4 linked regions of the Homo sapiens genome follow. The protein of the gene in region 3 purifies or fractionates together with the protein of the main gene of each other region. This does not show direct contact. Each region holds a gene or a part of one and is shown on either strand. Other genes may lie near its edges.

Evidence for each region.
Region 1: the proteins of TM4SF18 (region 3) and CD47 purify together in Homo sapiens (affinity purification with mass spectrometry; 2 studies listed by BioGRID and IntAct, with this or other methods). This does not show direct contact.
Region 2: the proteins of TM4SF18 (region 3) and MAOB purify together in Homo sapiens (affinity purification with mass spectrometry; one large-scale study listed by BioGRID and IntAct). This does not show direct contact.
Region 4: the proteins of TM4SF18 (region 3) and CD320 purify together in Homo sapiens (affinity purification with mass spectrometry; 2 studies listed by BioGRID and IntAct, with this or other methods). This does not show direct contact.

Annotation. Positions count from the first base shown.
Region 1 is NC_000003.12:108,052,413-108,057,459, forward strand, and holds part of CD47 (leukocyte surface antigen CD47 isoform 1 precursor), read right to left. Parts: intron 3,155-5,047; exon of another isoform or gene 3,108-3,154; intron 1,937-3,107; exon of another isoform or gene 1,841-1,936; intron 1-1,840. UniProt on the Homo sapiens protein: Adhesive protein that mediates cell-to-cell interactions. Acts as a receptor for thrombospondin THBS1 and as modulator of integrin signaling through the activation of heterotrimeric G proteins.
Region 2 is NC_000023.11:43,879,032-43,884,612, forward strand, and holds the start of MAOB (amine oxidase [flavin-containing] B), read right to left. Parts: upstream 3,420-5,581; 5' UTR 3,269-3,419; coding exon 3,223-3,268; intron 1-3,222.
Region 3 is NC_000003.12:149,322,669-149,327,715, forward strand, and holds part of TM4SF18 (transmembrane 4 L6 family member 18), read right to left. Parts: intron 2,355-5,047; coding exon 2,212-2,354; intron 1-2,211.
Region 4 is NC_000019.10:8,301,008-8,306,286, forward strand, and holds the end of CD320 (CD320 antigen isoform 1 precursor), read right to left. Parts: intron 4,150-5,279; coding exon 4,024-4,149; intron 3,082-4,023; coding exon 2,848-3,081; intron 1,974-2,847; coding exon 1,770-1,973; intron 1,599-1,769; coding exon 1,456-1,598; 3' UTR 1,120-1,455; downstream 1-1,119. UniProt on the Homo sapiens protein: Receptor for transcobalamin saturated with cobalamin (TCbl). Plays an important role in cobalamin uptake. Plasma membrane protein that is expressed on follicular dendritic cells (FDC) and mediates interaction with germinal center B cells.

The DNA of each region.
Region 1 (5,047 bases), about 41 Mb from region 3:
TCTCCACATCACTCCCTGGGTCTTTCCAGTTTCAAAGCTCCAAAGAGCTAACAAACTAAAGAAAATACTCAGATAGCTCTGAGTATTCCTCTATCTATTTCTTCTTAGCTTTCTGAGTTGCCTTTTTCACTGCTTCCAAATGGATTCATTAATGAAGTTGAAGGAATACAGTACATGAGCAAAGTGACGAAAGGGAAAAAGAATACCCTAGTTGGGGAGGGAAGAAGAGATAGCTTCCTTATAAAAAAAACAAATGAGAAGGCTGGCCGTGGTGGCTCATGCCTGTAATCCCAGCACTTTGGGAGGCCAAGGCAAATAGATTGCTTGAGCTCAGGCATTCAAGACCAGCCTGGGCAACATGATGCAACCCTGTCTCTACCAAAAATACAAAAATTAGCTGGCGTGGTGGTGCATGCCTGTGGTGCATGCCTGTAGTCCCAGCTACGTGGAAGGCTGAGGTGGGAGGATCTCCCTCGTCCTGGGAGGCAGAGGCTGCAGCGAGCTGGGGTCGTGCCACTGCACTCCAGCCTGGGCGACAGAGCGAGACTCCATCTCAAAAAATAAAAAAACCCAAAAAAACAAATAAATACAGAATAAGAATCCTACAGATGGAAAAGCGTTGAACAGAAACATGCCATGAACCACTCAGCAGGAGGGGGATCCTACTGAACAGAGAGGCCCATTCCGCTGGGACCTGGGCTGGATGACAGCACTGGATTTTCTCATCAGCAGATGGAGGCACGCCTCCAGGACTGCTCTGTGTTCCTTACTATTTATTTACCACCACTGCACACTCGAATTCTGTCAAGCTTCCAAAGCTGGCAGGGAAAAGGGTGGGTCCTGACCCAAGGAAAGCCAATCTGTGAGCCAGCCAAAAGCTGGTGAGTCTTTCTCAAACAGGAAAAATGGCAACAGACTGGACTGACAAGTTTCTCCCTGCCACTGGACTCTAAGAAGAAACAGAAAAAAACCCAGAAAGTTGGTGATGGGAAGGGAAAGTGAAAAAGAAACAGAAAGGAGACAAGGATGAGTCCAAAGCTGTAGGTAAGAAAAGTTGTCTGTGAGAAGGCATGAATAGGATAAAAAACAGTGGCATAAACAAGAGGGTGAGCTAGCTGGCTAATAGGCAAAGAATCAAAGACAGAGGAACTCAGGAACTATAACTGACAGGGGCATCACCTTACTCTTGCTGCTGAGAGGGCAACACGATGCTTCAGTTCTTTGATATGGAATGGATCCTTCCAATTCCTAGACTACATACTGTCCCACCCCTGTGAGGCCCAGTTATGTATCTGAGCTCATAGGAGTCCAGTTTCTGTTAGTGCCATGGGCGGCTTTAAATAGGCCTCCCTTACTGTGGAGGAACCTGGGGGAGTGACTTGGTCCTTGTATCCAAACAAGAAGCCAACCTCTTTTTAAAGTAGAACAGGGTAAAATGGGTTGGGATGCACTACATTTAGCAGCCTCCCCAATAAACTAAGCAGAAATACAGAGCTTTATTTGGGAACATCAGGATAGTTACATGTATATACAACTGACTTCAATGAAACCATGCCTTATATCTATGTTCTACAAAGAAAAAGAGAACTAAACAACTATCTAAATTTCTGATGGTAATATGGAAGTTCAGAGATAAGGTTTTAGAGTTACATTTTTGAGCTCATAAATGTATTTATCAGAATAAACACTGCCAGGTGTAGTGGCACATGCCTGTAGTCCCAGCTACTTGGGAGGCTGAGGTGGGAGCATTGCTTGAGCCCAGGAGCTCGAGGCCAGCCTGGTCAACATAATGAGACCCTGTCTCTAAAAACAAAACAAAACAAAATAGAATATTGCTAACCGCCAAGTAACTCCTTTTCTTCCCTAATAATGTAGAAAGAATACTTTCTAGTTCTAAATCTCCGATCCAAGGGATGTCACAGTTGGCTGGCCCATTCTGAAAAAAAAAGATTTATGAAGAATGGTACTTCAAAGGGACATCAGTCAGTTGTGATCCCTCTAAATATTATAAAACCAAACAGTGTACAAGTTAATTTCACCTGAGTTAATTCTCTCCAATATGGATATAACCCATGTGACAAAAGAATTATTACGATTTCTGCTGCTACCATGAGCCTAAGACATTGACAGCCATATATATATATTTTTTAACCACAAGCCTTAAGCATTCCATATGAGCATACTTGCAATGCTTCTTGATTTGTTCTTCTCTCCCTGAAACATCTGACTCCATGCCATAAATACATTTCCAGGGTTTAAATTTTTCAGAAACATTTTTTCTATTGATACCAAATTTACCTCTCCTTAAATTGAACAAGAAAATATCTGAATTTGTATCTATACATAGATATAAATTCTACGTATATATTCTGCATCTGCATCATTCTAAAATATCTGGGATGTTGTGGTAAATATGGTACTTACTGCTACCAGATTGATTTGTATCAAAACACTATATGCCCTTATATTGAACTAACTGGTAATGGCTTTAAAAATGAGAAAGTATTGATCCTTATAATTATATAAACGTTCTCTACAAACAACAAGCCCAACTTTAGTGAGTTTGGTTAGGTTCTTGTAATCTTTTCTATGCTTTCACATTAAGTTATTGTGCCCAGTCCTTTTTCTCATCTTATAAAATTAAAATGCTTCCAATAAAAGAAAAAAAATACAACACAGTTTAAAAAGTTAAAAAATAGAAAGTGAAAGTCACTTTCACAGAAAGTTGTAGAAAGTGAAAGGCCTACTCTTTAAAATAGCAAATTAAGGCTACAAATTTAAAGTTGGAAATAATAAAAATTATAAAAGTTAAAAATCTCATAGCGACATTAACTTCTTCTTGAAGAGAAAGCTTGGATTTTTAACTATTTGAGGATTTTATTGCATTTAAATCAAAACACAATCATTAGGCTTTTCTAAAACAGAACACGTGCAATGAGTAAAAATTATTTTGGAGACACTTAAAATTTTAACTTCCTAATATAAACGCTCAAATTTGCAACCTTAATGTTACATAGATTCAGATTTACACAGTCAGATTATATAAGCAAACCATATTAATGTTCCTCCTAGTCTACCATGTTATCTAAAGAGCAACTTTCCTGTACCTTGTCTCTTCTTGCCTTTCAACTGACTGTAGGTGTCCCTCTGAACCCTGGCATCAGACAAGTTGATTTAAAAAGTTAATTTAGGATACTATCAATAAAATTAGGACACTATCAATAAAATTGCACTAAATTTTAAACATATAGCATAAATTTTAGCATATAGTATACTTATATGCTAACCTATGACAAAGAAAAAATAATTTGGGGTACTTGTCAAGATTTAAGTCATTTTAATTTTAATGTCAGAACAGTGACAGGTACAGTACAGTGGTTTCACAGGCTTGGAGGAACGTAAGTGATGGAGAAGGCAGGAGAGTGAAGTTAAGGAGGTGGCAGATAGACAATGCTTAGTTCCACTTGAGACATTGTCACCAGACCTGCTGGCAACTGTACTGAAGATCATTCTATGCTAGATATGGAAGGCATGGGGTGGCATGGGAGTAAAAGGGAGGACAACCCAGATAGTGAGGAAAAAATAAGAGCGTGCTGCCCGTCAGCCAAAGGTATCTCATACTACTTCACCAGAGTTGTATGGATACTGCAAATCACACACTATTCTCAGGCATTTGTGGGGAGCAACAAAACCAGGAGTGTCATCTTCCAGAACCAGACACATGGTGATTGGAAGATGTAACAAAAATAGAATATGCACCAACATTCAAGATGTTCACTGTAGCTACCACATGAATTCCATTCTGCTTTAGATGTCTCCATTGTATTTTATGGCATTATGTGGTATAAAATTAGAAAATTTCATTGAGCAACAACTAAGACTTATGAACTCATATGCTAAGGATACGCAGATTTTAGTTAAGTATTTTAATTATTTATCTAATAAGCATTAATTAAAGAAAGACACAGAATATATGACAGAATTGAATTCAATTAACAATCATCAAGAACCAAAGTTCAGAAATAAAGGTAAAAGTTTTTTGAAACTATTATGTGAGTCATATGAGAAATTATTTGACTATAACAATTCAAGTTTCGTATTAAGTTTTAGAAACACATACAGCAAAGTTTACCTAAAGCAAAGCAGAAACACTATTTTTTTACTCCATTAATTTATAACTTTTGATTATTTTGATAGGTGGTTAAGAGTATGTTTTATTTCATAAAAATATAATTTTTTTAAAAAACGGAAACTAATATAAATTACATTATTGGGAACATCTTGAGCTTAGGTAAGATAACATTAGTTTCAGGCACAATTGAAAATATCTCTCTGTGTACATATATCTCAATAAAAAATAAGAATTTATGCAGAAATGTTACTTGAAAATTGGCAGATTAAATATACAAGTTAGAAACAATGAAGTAAATTCCATACTTACTAATAATTGATTTTAAAAGGAGTAAAAGCCTAAATTTTGAAACTCAATGTTTTCATTATATTGGTTTTAACTAGAACTGTTTTAAAGTCATGCATTAGAGGTCACTGCTCTTTAAATGAACAAAATTGATAGATTGTGAATTTTAATTCCTGTCTGGGGTGTCTATGTCTGCAAGAAAAAGAGCAAGTGACAAACAAACAGGTCTGTGCAGGACAGCTCTATCACAGAAACACTGGAACAATTAAAAATCCTATTCTATTACTTAAAATGGATCCTCAAAGATCTCTCCCCTTTTACTTAGTATAAAAAGGTACACATTCTAATAGATAAAGCCATTTTCCTTTAAACTACTTTGGAAACCAAATTTTCATTAATCCTATATGTCTTCTACCCTCTTTAATTACCCTCAAATCATTCCAATTGTATTTTCTGACTTCTGGTCTTAAACTGGAAGAACCAACTAAAAATCCTATATGTCTTCTACCCTCTTTAATTATCCTCGAATCACTCCAATTGTATTTTCTCATTTTTGGTCCTAAACTGGAAGAACAAACTAAAAAGCATTTTCTAAGTGATATATCTGAAATTATTGGCATAGGTTAATGA
Region 2 (5,581 bases), on a different chromosome or scaffold from region 3:
TAGTTTCCATGGTTCCACCCACCCAAACACTAAAACTGAGAGACGCGGGACAGATGCAACGTGCTGCTGTCCAGTTCCATGTGGGAGATGTCATTGCTCTGCCAAGTCTCTGGAGATGATCTGCCCCTTGGGTAAAAGAGATTTCAGTGCATACTCATTTATACACCATACACATTTCTAAAAAGTTAGTCTACAACTATCTTGGAACTTTTAAAACATCAAAAAAGAAAGTTATGTATTAACCAGCTATCCTCCCAGTATGTCTCTGTTTATCCCAAAGGGAGTGATTAAAATTTGCTGACAGCTTTAAAAATTATCAGGGAATTGCCAGAATGTCCCAAGTTTAATAATTAACAAAGCTTAGAACGCAGAGTCAAATCCAGAGACTTTTAAACATAAATCATTGTGTTGGTCACCTACTAATTCGAAAATTCTACACACTACACTCTTGATTTTGGCCATTTCATCTACTAAAACCTCTATCGTACACATTTGTAACCCCAATTTCATTCCAACTGCTAGATTTCTCTCCCTGGGTGTCCTCCCAGAACCTCCAACTCTAGACGTCCTATCTTTTCCCAAAACCTTCTCTCCCTCTTCTTCATATCCCTCTTTTTGCTAATATCACCATCAGATGTGACACACGCCATTTGATGCATGGCACTCTGAATAAAAAATCATCAGTGCTATTCATTGATCACAGAAAGAGCTAAACCTTTCTGATATACAAGCCTCCCCATAATTCATCCCAACTGACTTTTCTAGCTTTCTCTCCCACCAGACCCCTCTGGCAACTCTCCGCAATGAAGTTCTTAAGTTATCCTACACGTTAGCATGTTCTTTCACATATTTGTGGTTTTATACAAGCTGCTCTTTAGTTTAAAAATGCTTTCTTCATCTAGTCCCCTGGTGAATTCATATTCATTCCTGAAGACATAGTTCAGATGTCACCAACTCTGTGAGTTCTTAGATTTTCTCAGACAGAGTTTGATGTTCTCTCCAATCACCTTCCCTAGAATTTTTTATATGCACTATTAAAGCACCTATCATATGCCAAAGAGTAGTAATTATTCTTGACTGTCTTCCACATCAGCTTGTGAGGGCCCCAGGAACAATGGCCCTGTATAAATCATCTTTTATTTCTTTTGGGACAAAATGTGGAACAGGAAGTAAATGTTCATTGAATGAATGAATAATGAATCAATGAATGGACCCCTCCCATGGCACGCACCACCTTCTACCTTGTATTGTCTGAGTATCCCATCACCCTTCTTGAATTGACAAGTCTTCCGGGGCAAGAACAACATGATCCATTTTTGAATCCCCTACACAGCCTCCCTCAATTCCTATTGTCTGAATAAATGGGTAAAACTCTTGAGGGGCTTGTGCCATATTTCAGACTCTGCAAAGCTATTTTACTCACATTGTTTCACTTGCCCTGTAATCCAGCAGTGACTAACTGGTGTTATCCCCATGTAGCAGATGAAGCAATTGAGTAAGACTGGGCCTTGGAAGGCTGCTTTCTTGGTTCTTAGAACAATGCCTATTCCGTGGAATGTTCTTGAGAAAAGTCAGATCTACTCATCAGTACCTTGTTTTGATCAGAGTTCGGGAGGATGAATGCAGAGGTTTCACCACTGCTTGCAAAAATAGTTAAACCCTTATCTACCTTTTCCAGATGAGTCTAACATGAGTAATGTGATTGAACCTGAAGGTGTGGAGTATGAATCAGAAAGGGACAAATCATGAAGGGAAAATAGAAAAATCTGAATCCATTGGGCATACTTTAGTGAGAAAATGACTTCGGGGGCCTGAAAAGAGAAACTTCAGCTTCTGTAAGATGGGGTGCTATGCAAGGCAGCATCAAGAGGCACTTAGTAATATTTTCTAAAACACCTAAGTAGGTATGCTTTTAAGTCCAACTTCCTCTAGGAGAGAAGATGTCAAAAATACTGAAAGAAAACTGAATTTATACACAGCCTTGGCCAACCTCAGCATGTTGTGATTACGCATCTATGTACCTGCAACACCAGGCACAGGGCCTGGCATGGGCGAGCTCACCAGAGCCTGCTAGACAGATGTGGTAGCCTGAGATCCCACCCAAAGGGGAGAAAGGCTGGAGCAGAGGCAGGAGGACTGGACCATGGTCAGCACCAAACATCCAATGCCTTGGTTTTTTCTCCAGCCACAGGAGAGTCAGAACAACTCTGTCCTGCCCTCCTGGCAGGGAGCAAGGCCAACCTCTACTTCCCAAAGGCCACTTGAGAACTCCTTAAGGCAAGTCTTAGACAATGCATCCACGGGTCTGGAGGTGTCCTAATTACTGCTCAAGTACTAGGCAGCGTTAGGAGGTGGGCCAAAGCATGCCCAGGGGGCCATTAAACAGGCTGTGCTGAGAGCATCATTGATTCCCATTGACCCTATCCCATAGGATCTGCCTGATCCTCCACAGAGGGTAAGTTCCACCACTACCCCCATCCCTTCTTCTGGCTTCTATTTTTCGGTGCCCTTGGTATGTACACAGCCCCGTGTGGCTGAGGGGGTAGTGTCTGTCCCCATCCTTGCCAAATATGGGCTAGGCCAGAGAGCAAAGCTGCAGCTTGGCCACCCTGCGCTAGGAGTGGGGTGGGGTGGAGTGGGGGTGCGAGAGGCATAAGAGGAAAACAGGCATTTGCCAAAAAGACACTGCAGCCTCAAGTTAGATCCGTGACAATCACAGAACCTCAAAGAATCAGGAGGGCCTGGAAAGTCTTTGGCAATCGATTGGCCAGGCTCCAACCTCTTCTGTTCAAGGTCGTTTTCCTGACGCCAGGACAACAATACGATGTGGTGCATGCTTGCTCTAAGCGAGGGTGCGGAGTGTCCAGGTCAAGTTGGAGCAAATGACTGACCTTTGTGCCACCTCCCCACCCCTTTTCCCTGGCTTCGAAAATTCCAGCAAGCGAAGGCCTAGCAGCCTTCTGGGGGAGAAGTTCAAAGTCTGGCCCCAGAGCTGCAACAGGCTTCCAGCCTCTGGCCTCTGCGTCCGGGAACGCACCCAAAATTGCCCCCAAAGGAGGGTTCAGTGCACGGCGCTCTGGACCCACTAGAGCCCTGCCCGTGCGTGGACAGTCTGGGGACTCCAGGGTCAGCCCCTGCCCCACGGCCGCCCCCCGCGTCTCCCCCAGGCAGCCACCTGTCCGAGCGCGTGAAGAGGAAGGAGGGCGCACAGCCGCGACTAACCTGAGATGCCGCCCCCCACCACGACCACGTCGCATTTGTTGCTCATGGCGCTCGCCCCGTTCCAGGCCTCCCTGGTGCCCGCTGCTCCGTTTTCTGGGCCTCGATCCCAGTCCTGCCTGCCAGCCAGCCCGCCCGCCTGCCCGCCGGCCTGCTGCGCGCTGCCCCCGTGCACCAGCGCCTCGGCGAGCCGCTATATTACCAGCCCCGGGAGCCCGGACGCGCAGCCCCGCCCGCCCGCCTACGCGCAGGCAGGCCGGGTGCAGCGCAGGGCCACCGCCCCCGCCCGCAGCTCTGCAGCCCAGGCCCGGGGAGGGCGGGTGCCTGGGCGGAGAGGTCACCTAGGACTTCAAAGAGTCCCGCCCCAGAATCCCCACTCCTCAGCCTTCTGCACGGTATTTTCCCATCAGCCTCCCTAGTGCACTATCAGGCTTGGCGGCTGGGAGGACGGCAAATTGGGGTGTCTTCCTTCAGGGCCCCAATTACTCCTTGGGTGTAGGGCAAATAATAAGAAACTTCCATTGAGTGATTTCAAGGTACCAGGCACTGTGCTCAGTACTTTATGCATGATTCCTGTTCAAGCTTACAACAATCCATTTTGCAGATGAGGAAAACAAAACATGGTGAGTGACAACATAAGATAAAAAGTCAGAAAGAAAAAAAAAGAAAAGAAAAGAAAAGAAAAGCTAGGAAGATTCCAAGACCCACTTTGATTCACCACACAGTACTACCATTTCTTGGCATTCCCAGCCCACCTCACCCTCCTTCCAAATACCCACTTCTTTCCCCACTCCCCCTACGTGATTAAGTCAGGAAGGCTCCTCCCTAGCATCACAAATGCCGCACCTTAAATACACTCTTAAGCAATGCAGTGTGTCCTTGGTGGAAGCTGTTGAGGCTAGACCCCAGGAGACTAGTGGCAGCAGGGAAGAGGTGGTGGATCGGCATTGTGGGATTCAGAGCCCCCAGAAGCAGCAAGCCAAGTTACCTGTGTGACCCTGGAACGTGGGTATGAGGAGCCTGGTTTAGCCAAACACAGGGATGATTCAACAAGATTATAGGAGTTTAAGCTAAGGTGACTCCAGGGAAAACAGAAGTTTATGTCTTCTGGACAGTAGGAAAGCCACCTCTGAGAACTAAAAGTGGGAAGCAGCAACATAGAATGGCTTTTCAAGAAATAAACAGGTGAAGTGCTTCTGTTCAGGCCTGAGAGGGGCTGGCTTCAGATCTGGGGAATTTGATGAGAACCTGAAGCAAACCTCTGCCTCATCCCACACCATTCCCTGTATCTACCTGCTAGAAAGGTATCCTGAGCTTCTGCTGTCCTCAGACCAGAAGACAATTTGGGCACTTCTGTGACTGAGTCACAGGTGACAGGAAAAGTCTTTGTCCACCTCTGACTTCCATCTGTCCTGCTTTGGTATAAAACAGTCAGACCCTGTGCCTGAACCCCGATCCCTACCTCATGTCCCCACTGCAGAGAATGAAGCTACCTCACCCTGCAGACAGTTTGTGCTGACCTCCTCCTTGCCATCCCCTATCTGGTCCACTTCTGTTCACAGGTCCCTGAAGCTGTGGGCTTCTTGGCTGTGGATACTCTTGTCTCCCCACCTAGCCTGCAAGTGAATTACGTGCCAGGTGAGGTAGGATGAATGGAGAGGATCTGCTACGGTTTGAATGTGTCCCCCAAAGTTCACGTGTTGGAAATTCAATCCTCAATGCAACAATGTTGGGGCATGTTTAGGTTCCAAGGGCTCCATCCTCATGAATGGATTAATGCCACTATAAAAAGGGCCTGAGACAGCAAATTTGACCTCTTGCTCCTTCTAACCCTCATTGCCCTTCTGCCATGGGATGACATATTGGGAAGGCCTTTGCCAGATGCCAACATCTCATCTTGGAATTTGCAGACTCTAGAACCATGATACAATAAATTTCTCTTCAATGTAAATTACCCCCCTTAGGTATTCTGTACTAGCAGCACAAAATGGACTAACACGAGATCCTTGTGGGATCTTCTTGGAATCTCTTTTGCTTAGTTCCAACAGTGCAAGTCAGCCAGGAGCCTGGGGATCTAAGACTTTGAATAAAAGGCAGACTGATAAACCCTTCTCTATGTCCAACTGGCAATGAGGGCAGGAGAGGATCCACACGGTTCCATGGTATCTGGAGAAAATTCATTAGCAAACAGCATTTTCCCCAAACAAAGGTAATCAGTTACCTTGTGCTCCATGAGGTATATTTTTAAAAGGGATGGGGGTGGGGATTGAATTAGAACCTAGGACTTGGTCATAGGAAAAACAGCAGCCACCTGTTGTCCCCACATACAGGCAATCATCTGGATCCATTCAGGACCCTCAGT
Region 3 (5,047 bases):
TGTTTTTCTTTCTCCCTCTTCCATTTCTTTCCTACTTCCTTCTTTTTTACTCTTTCCCCACCTTTATTTATTTTCTACTTTCTAATGCTCCAGGAAATAGAGGCACTCTGAGAATTTCTTTATATTGTTAATGGCTCTTGTCTCCAATGGGAAAGAGCACAGAATATGAAATCAGAATTCCTGGATTTGGGTCTGCAGGATGTTGAGCAAAGAACTTTACCCCTCTGGCCTCCAGACTTTTTTTTTTTTTTTTGAGACGGAGTCTTGCTCTGTCGCCCAGGCTGGAGTGCAGTGGCGCATCTTCGCTCACTGCAAGCTCCGCCTCCCTGGTTCACGCCATTCTCCTGCCTCAGCCTCCCAAGTAGCTACAGGCACCCGCCACCACGCCCGGCTAATTTTTTGTATTTTTTTAGTAGAGACGGGGTTTCACCGTGTGAGCCAGGATGGTCTCGATCTCCTGACCTCATGATCTGCCTGCCTCACCCTCCCAAAGTGCTGGGATTACAGGCATGAGCCACCGCGCCTGGCCCTCCAGACTCTTATCTTGATAATGGGGTTAAAATATCTAACCCCAGAGTTATTGTGAATATTTGGTAAGAATGTGTATACAAACAGTTTGGAACCTGTAAAGTACAATACAGATGTGGCTTTCTGTTAAATTTCCCTAAACCTATCTCATACCCCCATTTACCCCTATCTCCATCTCAGCTGCCAGGGAAATGAGTCCCTCCAGATCCCTCCTCTAGACTGTTCCTAGTACATGCTCTGCACAGATCATCTAGCAATTTAAAACAAGATGACTTGCAATGTTGCAGGAAGTCGGGGACCCCAAATGGTGGGACTGGCTGGAGCCGCGGCAGAGAAACATGAATTGTGAAGATTTCATGGACATTTATCAGTTCCCAAATAATACTTTTATAATTTCTTATGCCTGTTTTTACTCTAATCTCTTAATCCTGTTATCTTCATAAGTTGAGGATGTACACCACCTCAGGACCACTGTGATAATTGTGTTAACTGTACAAATTGATTGTAAAACATGTGGTTTGAACAATATGAAATCAGTGCACATTGAAAAAGAGCAGAATAACAGAGATTTTTAGGGAACAAGGGAAGACAACCATAAGGTCTGACTGCCTGTGGGGTTGGGCAAAAAGAGCCATATTTTTCTTCTTGCAGAGAGCCTATAAATGGATATGCAAGTAGGAGAGACCTGAGGGAGAGTCATGTTTGCTAAGAAAGGTCATGGTATATGGCACCATGTAAAAATCTTCAGAATGAAGGCAGCTACAGTCACAGAAGCAGCTCTGCCATGTAGGCCTAGATGCACATGTAAGACCTCAGATGGACATGGGCCTTGAACAATAAAGCTAATCATGGAGAGTTGAGAAGAAAATTTAACTTCCCCCAGTGAATGGTACAGACATTCCCTCATTTTACTCCATTAGAATTCTGGACCTCTTCTGTATTTCTTTCTGGGCCCTGCTACCTCCTAATCTGCATCTGGTGCTGGGAACCCAATAAGCCCAGCACAATGCCAGTGTGAGGCATTCTGAGATCCGGGATTGGGTTGTGAGACTCCTGACTGAATTACTAGCCTTCTGAGCAAGGCTACCTCTTTAGACCCTTCTCCAGTATAAGCTGCATAAGCTCTGGCTCATTCCACAAACTCCTGCACCTAATCATGTTCCTGGACCTCAGACTGTACTTTCCTGCTCATCCTGCCTTGTTCTATCTCTTTATCATCCCTCCTACTATAGCCCTGAGTGGCACCATCCAAGAGCACCATGGTTTCTCTCCTCCTCAAGCCCTTTTACACTTGTAACAGACCACATGTCCAACCTGGCCATAAAACAAAACTGAGTTCCTGGATCCACCCAGTCCATAAGCTCCAGCTGTTACCAGACCAGACCATAGTAACCACACAACTTTAATCTGAGGTATGGGAGAAACACACCTTTCATTTGGATAGCTCCATGACAACCTCAAGACATTGAATGAAAATGGCATTAAAAGACTGAAGAAAAAAATCTAAACAAAGATCTGTGCAAGAACAAATTGGTCTGGATATTAGTAAACTAACAGGGAAATTCTGCACTAAAACAGCCACATGGAACCCCAAAGTGATCATGGAAAATGAGCGTGAGCTTGAGCATGAGGCAAGGTGTTTCTGATTTTCCGACCTCCTTGGTTTGGGGAATTATTCCTTACCGTCCAGCAGTGCCTTCAAAAGCATACTCCCAGCCATCAAGGGTGCGGCAATATGGCCCTTGGACAAGACCCAAGGCAGAGATGACCAGGCAGTATCCAGAAAAAGCAATTCCGAGGGAAGAAAAGATAATTGACAGCAGTGTCTAAATTAAAACATAGAAGCAGGTTAGTACCATAGAATGCGACAAGGGGATATTGTGGATAAATTATCAGATAGCTACATTCCCCTATTCACCCAAGCTCATGCAGTCTATACAATACTAAATGCCCACATAGAAATAAAAAAAAAAGTAATCCAAACCTATTTGATCTTAAAAATAAGCTTTTAAATAACGTTTAGTTTGGCATCACATAGAGGTAACTAGGTAATTTACTAAATTTATTCTTTCCTTGTGGAATTTTGATATCAAAATAATGATCTCCTCTTATGAAAATGCAGTGAAGGATGTGATCAATCAACCCATAACTATCTATTGAAGACCTGTTATTTTCTAGGTAGAGTGGGTTCTCTAAGAATTATAAGCTATGACCTCTGCTTTCCTCTTATAAAGATATTAAAATATCTTTACAACAATATAAAGGAAAATGTCAGGTATAGTATTGAAATTTATATTCATATTCAAGTGACGATAGGATTGATGGAGAGGGGGGTGTTTTCATTTGAGTAGAGAGAATGGGTGTTATTCACAGGCAGATCAGTGCAACCAGAGTTGTGAGAAAGTAGGTTTAATCTAAGAGGGGTTTATTCAGATGAGTGAGGAGAAAGGCTCTGAAGACAGATTGACATGGTACTAATGCTGGGAAAACAAGGTTGATAGGGCACAATTCAGCCCTTGAGTAGCTTAAAAAGTGAGTACAGCTTGGTAGATCCAGGCCAGAGCTGGCCTTGAATGCCAGGTTAAGAAATCTGGACTTTATCCTTCAGGGCAAGGGACTTCCCTCCTCCCAACCTTAAAAAATGTCAAATCTACAAAAAAGTTGAAAGTATAGCACAATAAACCCCTACATATCCTTTATCTAGAATCACCTACATGAATATTTTACCATATTTGTTTGTGCTTTCTCTCTTTCTCTGTGTGTATGTGTGTATATATTCATGCAAAGTATATATGTACACCTGTACATATATACAAATATGTATTTATTATGTGTTTTTGTTACTGAGCCATTAGGTTGCAGACATTATGATATTTCACCCCTAAATATTTCAGCATACACCTCCTAAGAATAAAAACATTCTATTATTTTGTAACTTTTAAATTTTTTTTGTACAGGATCCAATAAAGGTTTATGTACAAGACTACATCTCTTTAGTTTCCTTTAATTTACACTAGTCTTTCTGCCTTTTTGTTTTTTGGGGTGTTAAACTGTTTTTAAGAATCCCTGACAGTTGTCTTGTAGATGTCTCACATTCTGGGCTTTTCTGATTATTTTCTCACAATTGAATTCAAACATTTTAGCGAGAATACTTAATGGGTGTGGTGTACATTGTGGGCCTTTCATGCTAAGGGTGGTGCTAAGTTTGATCTCTTGGTTAAGAGTATCCTTCAGATCTCTTCCCTGGATAGGTACATTTTCCTCTTGGCAATTAGTAAATAACTGCCAAGGTGATGCTTTGAGACAGTGTCATATTCTGTTTCTTAATAACATTTCAACTGATGGATTTAGCATCCACTGATGATCCTCATATTCATTGATTACCAGCAATCACTGTGGTTCCAATGTGCTGCTTTCATAATGCTATAATTTATCTGCATTTATGTTATCATTTTTCTGCACAGAACAACTTCCATTTCCCATTCCTCTCTCCTTTGCCTCTGTCTATATTTTCTGGACTCACAGATCTTCTAATTCATTGTGCTATAATCCATAAATGCGATTATTCTTTTAGATGCACAGATGGTCCAAATTCGGCCAATGTGAACATCCCTGTAGGTCAACTCCTATGCCCTTTGACATACTCATGTCATTCTTTGAACATTTTCTTGCTTTCTGGCACAAGATGTTCCAGGTTCATTTTGAGCTTACCCTGCCATAGACCTGGAAGAAGCTGGGGTTTTGTTGTTGTTGTTGTTTTGTTGTTGTTTTTGAGTTGTAGTCTCACTCTGTCACCCAGGCGGGAGTGCAGGGCCTGATCATGGCTCACTGCAACCTCCACCTCCTGGGTTCAAACGATTCTCCTGCCTCAGCCTCCTGAGTAGCTGGGACTACAGGCACGTGCCGCCACGCCTAGCTCATTTTTGTATTTTTAGTAGATATGGGGTTTCACCATGTTGGCCAGGCTGCTCTCAAACTCCTGACCTCAGGGGATCCACCTGCCTTGGCCTCCCAAAGTGCTGGGATTACAGGCATGAGCCGCTGTGTCCGGCCAGAAACTATTTTTTAAACAAGTCTTGTAATTGGTTTTTGAGCAGGAAGTGATATGCCCAAAATGTGCTTTTGGAAGATTGCTCTGGCAGTGGTCACACAAGCTGGAAGTAAGAGACCTCAAAGATAAGGATCCAGCTTGGAGACAGATGCAAGTTGAGGTGACAAAGACACACATTGGAGGAAAACACATTAAGGAGGAAATGAGTAGCTGGAGATGAAAAAAAAAAAAAAATCCAGAGCTGGGGCTTGGATAAAAAGGAGACAGAAATAAGGATACCAAGAAAGGTTATTTGGTTTGGGGGAAAAATTAGCTTTAGAAATGTTGATTGCAGGGTGAGAGTAGGCAGCAGAATAGTAACATGCAGTAACCAATTGATAATAAATTCAAAAGCTGAGACCAGAAAAAGTAAGACCAACAAACCTGTGATTTTAGGAATAAAAATCATCTCAATAACATTTCTTTGTT
Region 4 (5,279 bases), on a different chromosome or scaffold from region 3:
GATGATTCAAGTACATTACTTGTTTTTGTTTGTTTTTTGAGACAGTCTTGCTGTGACACGCAGGCTGGAATGCAGTGGCCTGATCACGGCTCACTGCAGCCTGGACCTCCCAGGCTCAAGCAATCCTCCTACTTCAGCCTCCCAAGTAGCTGAGACTACAAGTGCACACCACCACCCACAGCTAGTTAAAAAAAAATGTATAGGCCAGGCACAGTGGTTCACGCCTGTAATCCCAGCACTTTAGGAGGCCGAGGCGGGCGGATCACCTGAGGTCGGGAGTTCAAGACCAGCCTGACCAACATGGAGAAACCCCTTATCTACTAAAAATACAAAATTAGCCAGGTGGGGTGGCACATGCCTGTAATCCCAGCAACAAGAACGAAACTCTGTCTCAAAAAAAAAAAAAAAAAAAAAAATTTGCAGAGATCCCTATGATGCCCAGGATAAATAATAAAACCTTTTTTTTCTTTTTTGAGACAGAGTCTCACTCTGTCACCCAGGCTGCAGTACAATGGCGTGATCTCAGCTCACTGCAATTTCCACCTCCCAGGTTCAAGGGATTCTCCTGTCTCAGCCTCCCGAGTAGCTGGGATTACAGACGCCTGCCACCACACCCAACCAATTTTTTGTATTTTTGGTAGAGACAGGGTTTCACCATATTGGCCAGGCTGGTCTCGAACTCCTGACCTCAGGTGATCCGCCCACCTCTCGGCCTCCCAAAGTGCTGGGATTACAGGTGTGAGCCACTGTGCCCGGCCAAAACGCAGTCTCTAAAAACATAATTAAAAAATAATTAAAACAGGGTGAGTCTGAGACCATCCCAGGAAACCTGGCTTCCACTGCACTGAGGAGGAAGCCACAGTGGGTGGGGGTCCCCAGACCTGGGAATGGGAAGGCACTGCCCAAGCTCTGCTCTTCTTCCAAGAATCCTGATGTTAACGCAGACTCCCCACCCCAGCCCTGCTGCCCCTGCTCCCAAAAAGCAAGCAGCACAGTAGCTGCACACAGGGCTGGGTGTCCATGTCCCACCTTCTATGGGCTGGGCTCTCATGGAGGAGGGGCTGCAGCAGCGACCCCAGGCTGCCCAGGCCAAGGGAGACAGAGACCCAGAGGCAGGCGGAGGATGTGAAGCAACTTTAATTGCCACCCTCAGACGGGGCAGCAGGAGTGTCTTAAGCACAGGGCCGTTCTACCCCCTGGGAGCTGCCTGGGGCCAGCCCCTCAGTTCTGGCTGTGGCAGGTTCCCCATCCTAGCTCCCCGGATCTCCATAGGGAGTGTCCAGGGACCCTCAATCTCCAGGGCCACTTCTGCAGGAGCTCGGGTTCGAGGTTCCACGTGGCCAGAAGAGCTCAGGTCTCTGAGGGCTGGTGTGCCCGGGTACCCATCCGCATCACTGCTCTCCTCCTGTCCGGCTACGCCCAGGGCTGAGTGACGGTGGTGGCAAGTGCTTGTCCTCAGGGCAGCGAGGTCTTCTGTTCTGACAGCAGCAGGGACTCCTTCATGGCCACCAGTAACCCCAGTGGGCGGAGGCGCTCCTGGGCTCGGAGCCAGGACAAAAGGAGGAGGGTGGCGGTGACCAGGCTTGCACTGAGCACCGCTGTGGGGAACAGATGGACAGAGGAGTAAGGAGGGGGAAGGCAAGAGCCCCCACACCCACCAAGCTCCATACACATGGGGATGGGAGTTCTGCAGCTCATCCCTCCCCACCCACCTCCCCTGAATCCCCGGAGCTCTAAGCCCCCAGCATGGGAGGGTAAGTCCCTCTTACCAGCAGCTGCAATAACCCCATAGGCAGTTGGGCTTCCAGACTGGTCTCCGGCAGAGGAGGATGTGGCATTCCCGACAGAGGGGACACTCTCCAGGGTCACAGGGGGCCCCATGGTTGTGGCATTCCTGAGAGAGGTGACACTCTCCAGGGTCACAGGGGGCCCCATGGTTGTGGCATCCCCTTCCGGGAGGATCTCATTGGTTCCTGCAATAAGCCCAGGCGTTCAGTAGTTGAGGAGAGAGCACTGAAGGCGTGAGGGGGCCAGATGCCCAGGGGAGCCCTTGGGGTTTATCCTCAACCAACCAGGCTGGGTGAAGCTGACTGCCCGTAATTATGTCTTTTTTTTTTTTTTTTTTTGGAGAGGGAGTCTGGCTCTGCCACCCAGGCTGGAGTGCAGTGGCGCAATATTGGCTCAGTGAAACCTCTGCCTCCTGAGTTCAAACAATTATCCTGTCTTAGCCTCCCGAGTAGCTGGGATTACAGGTGCACGCCACCACGCCTAGCTAACTTTTGTATTTTTAGTAGAGACAGGATTTCGCCATGTTGGCCAGACTGGTCTCGAACACCTCACCTCAGGTGATCTGCCTGCCTCGGCCTCCCAAAGTGCTAGGATTACAGGCGTTAGCCACCGTGCCCGGCCTTTTTTAAATTTTTTTGAGACAGAGTTTTGCTGTCACCCAGACTGGTGTGCAGTGGCCCAATCTCAGCTCACTGCAACCTCTGCCTCCCAGGTTCAAGCGGTTCTCCTGACTCAGCCTCCTGAGTAGCTCGGATTACAGGTGTGTGCCACCATGCCCAGCAAATTTTTTTGTACTTTTAGTAGAGACGGGGTTTCGCAGTGTTTGCCAGGCAGGTCTCGAAATCCTGACCTCAGATGATCCGCCCACCTCAGCCTCCCAAAGTGCTGGGATTACAGGCGTGAGCCACCGGGCCCGGCCCCTAATGATGTCTTGATTCCCCCACAGGGATGCAGGCACGGGCAAAGGCATGTGTCCACGCCCCCAGCCTGGCCACGCCCCAGCAGGCAGTGGGTGTCCCCATCTACCCACGAGTCCACCCCAGCCCCGCAGGTGCATACCACAGCCGAGCTCGTCGCTGGAGTCGGGACAGTCTGGGTGGCCGTCGCAGCGCCACGTGAGTGGAATGCAGTCATCGCTCAGCGTGCAACGGAGCTCGCCTGCTAGGCAGGCCAGGCGGCTGCAGTTGCGCAGTTTCTTGTCAGTTCCCCCAGAGCAGTCACTGACGCCGGTGCAGGGGCAGGGGAGGCCAGGGGGCGGTGGGCATTGCCCTTTCTGGGTACATGGCTCAATCCCTGGGGCACAGGGTTGGTCAGGTCCCAAATGCCCACCCAAGAAGGCCCAGGTACTCCCTGAAACCCCATCCCCTGCAAGCCCCACCCTCTAAGAACAGCTGAGCCCAAAAAAATGCTCCCTTCCTAAGGCTCCGCCCCCTGCAACTGTTAACTCCACTTTCTAAGGACAGGCCTCCCTGCAAGCTCTTCCCCTGAGACCCCACTAGCTCTACCTTCCTACAAGCCCACTTTATTCTATTTGTTTGTTTGTTTCTTTCTTTATTTTTTCTTTTGAGACGGGGTCTCCCTTTGCTGCCCAGGCTGCAGTGCAGTGGCGCAATCTCGACTCACTGAAACCTCTGCCTCCCAGGGTCAAGTGATTCTCCTGCCTTAGCCTCCTGACTAGCTGGGATTACAGGGGCCTGCCGCCACATCCAGCTAACTTTTGTATTTTTAGTAGAGATGGGGTTTCACTGTGTTGGCCAGGCTGGTCTCGAACGCCTGACCTCAAGTGATCCGCCTGCCTTGGCCTCCCAAAGTGCTGGGATTACATGTGTGAGCCACCGTACCTGGCTCCCTCCCTCTCTCTTTCCTTCCTTTCTTTCCTTTCTTTCATTTTTCTTTTTTTTTTCTTTTTCTTTTTTTTTCCTGAGACAGTCTTACTCTGTTGCCCAGGCTGGAGTGCACTGGCACAATCCTAGCTCACTGCAGCGGCAACCTCCCAGGATCAAGTGATCGATCCTCCCACCCTAGCCTCCCAAAGTGCTGGGATTGCAGGCGTGAGCCACTGCGCCCAGCCCAAGCCCATCTTAGACCCCGCTTCTTATGACCCACAGACCCAAGTCGCACCCATCCCTGCGGCCCTGCCTTTCCCACAAGCTCCACCTCCGCGTGCCTGGCCCCTGACAAACCACCCTCAGGCCCCGCCCCCTGTAAGCCCCGCCAAGGGGCGTGGCCACTCACTGCACTCCTCCTCATCGCTGCCATCGCTGCAGTCCAAGTCCCTGTCGCAGCGCCAGGTGAGGGGCACGCATAAGCCACTGGTGCGGCACTGGAACTTGGTGGGTGGGCACGAGCCTGAGCTGGGGCCTGCGAGATGGATGCAAATGAAGCCTGGGAAGCTGGAGGCTGGACCTTTCTCCAAGAGCACAGTAGTCACTGGCTGTGATCCGCAGGAGACAGGCGAAGTCCCGGGATATAGGAACCACACTGGCGGCTGCTTGTTACTGAGCCCCTAGTACGAGTGGGGTTCAGAGTGTAGCAGTTCCTGGGCTCAAGAGCCCCACTGGGCAGGTGCTACTGCACTCCCCAGGTTACAGAGAAAGGAACCAAGAGGAGGCCATACAGCTGGTGGCAGAGGCTGGGTGCAGTGGCTCACGCCTGTAATCTCAGCACTTTGGCAGGCCGAGGCAGGTGGATCACTTGAGGTCACGAGTTCGAGACCAGCCTGGCCTACATGGAAACCCCGTCTCTGTTAAAAATACAAAAATTAGCCGGGCGTGGTAGTGCACGCCTGTAATGCCAGCTACTCGGGAGGCTGAAGCATGAGAATCGCTTAAACCTGGGAGATGGAGGTTGCAATGAACCGAAATCATACTGCTGCACTCCAGCCTGGGCGACAGAACGAGACTCCGTCACCACAAAAAAGAAAAAAAAAAGAGCTGGTAGCGGAGTTGGGCTTCGAACTCAGGTCTCGCTGATCCCAGAGTCTTCACCAGGCTCCTCATAGCGAGATGATCTGCCAGGGAGACCTCCAAACTCAGTGGTTAAAGAGACTGAGGGACGGGCCATTTTTCCACATGCCCTGGGTCAGGCTCCCGGGCTCAGGTCAGCAGGGAGGGTCTATCTCCTCTGCGTAGCAAAAGGGAAACTGAGGCAGTGGGTGGGAAACTGAGGCACTGGGTAGAAAATCTGCTCAGTCACCAAGTCCTGTTGCCCCGCCTCCTGAATTCCTCCCAGACCTATCACTCTCCCCATCCTAAATGTGTCAGCTCCTCACCAGAGCCCCAGGCCCCAGGCCCCAAGGTCCATTAGGACACCAGAGACTTGCCTTTCCCTCTCTCCTCCCTACACCCTGTGTTTTCCCCTCAATTTTCAGATCTCAGCTGATTTCCTGGGAGGGTTCTCATGTCCCTCTTGGAGACCTAGGAAGCACTGCCTCCCATGTCTAACAACTGTCCTTAAAGCCCTGGTCATGCCTGTCCACCCACAGACTGGAC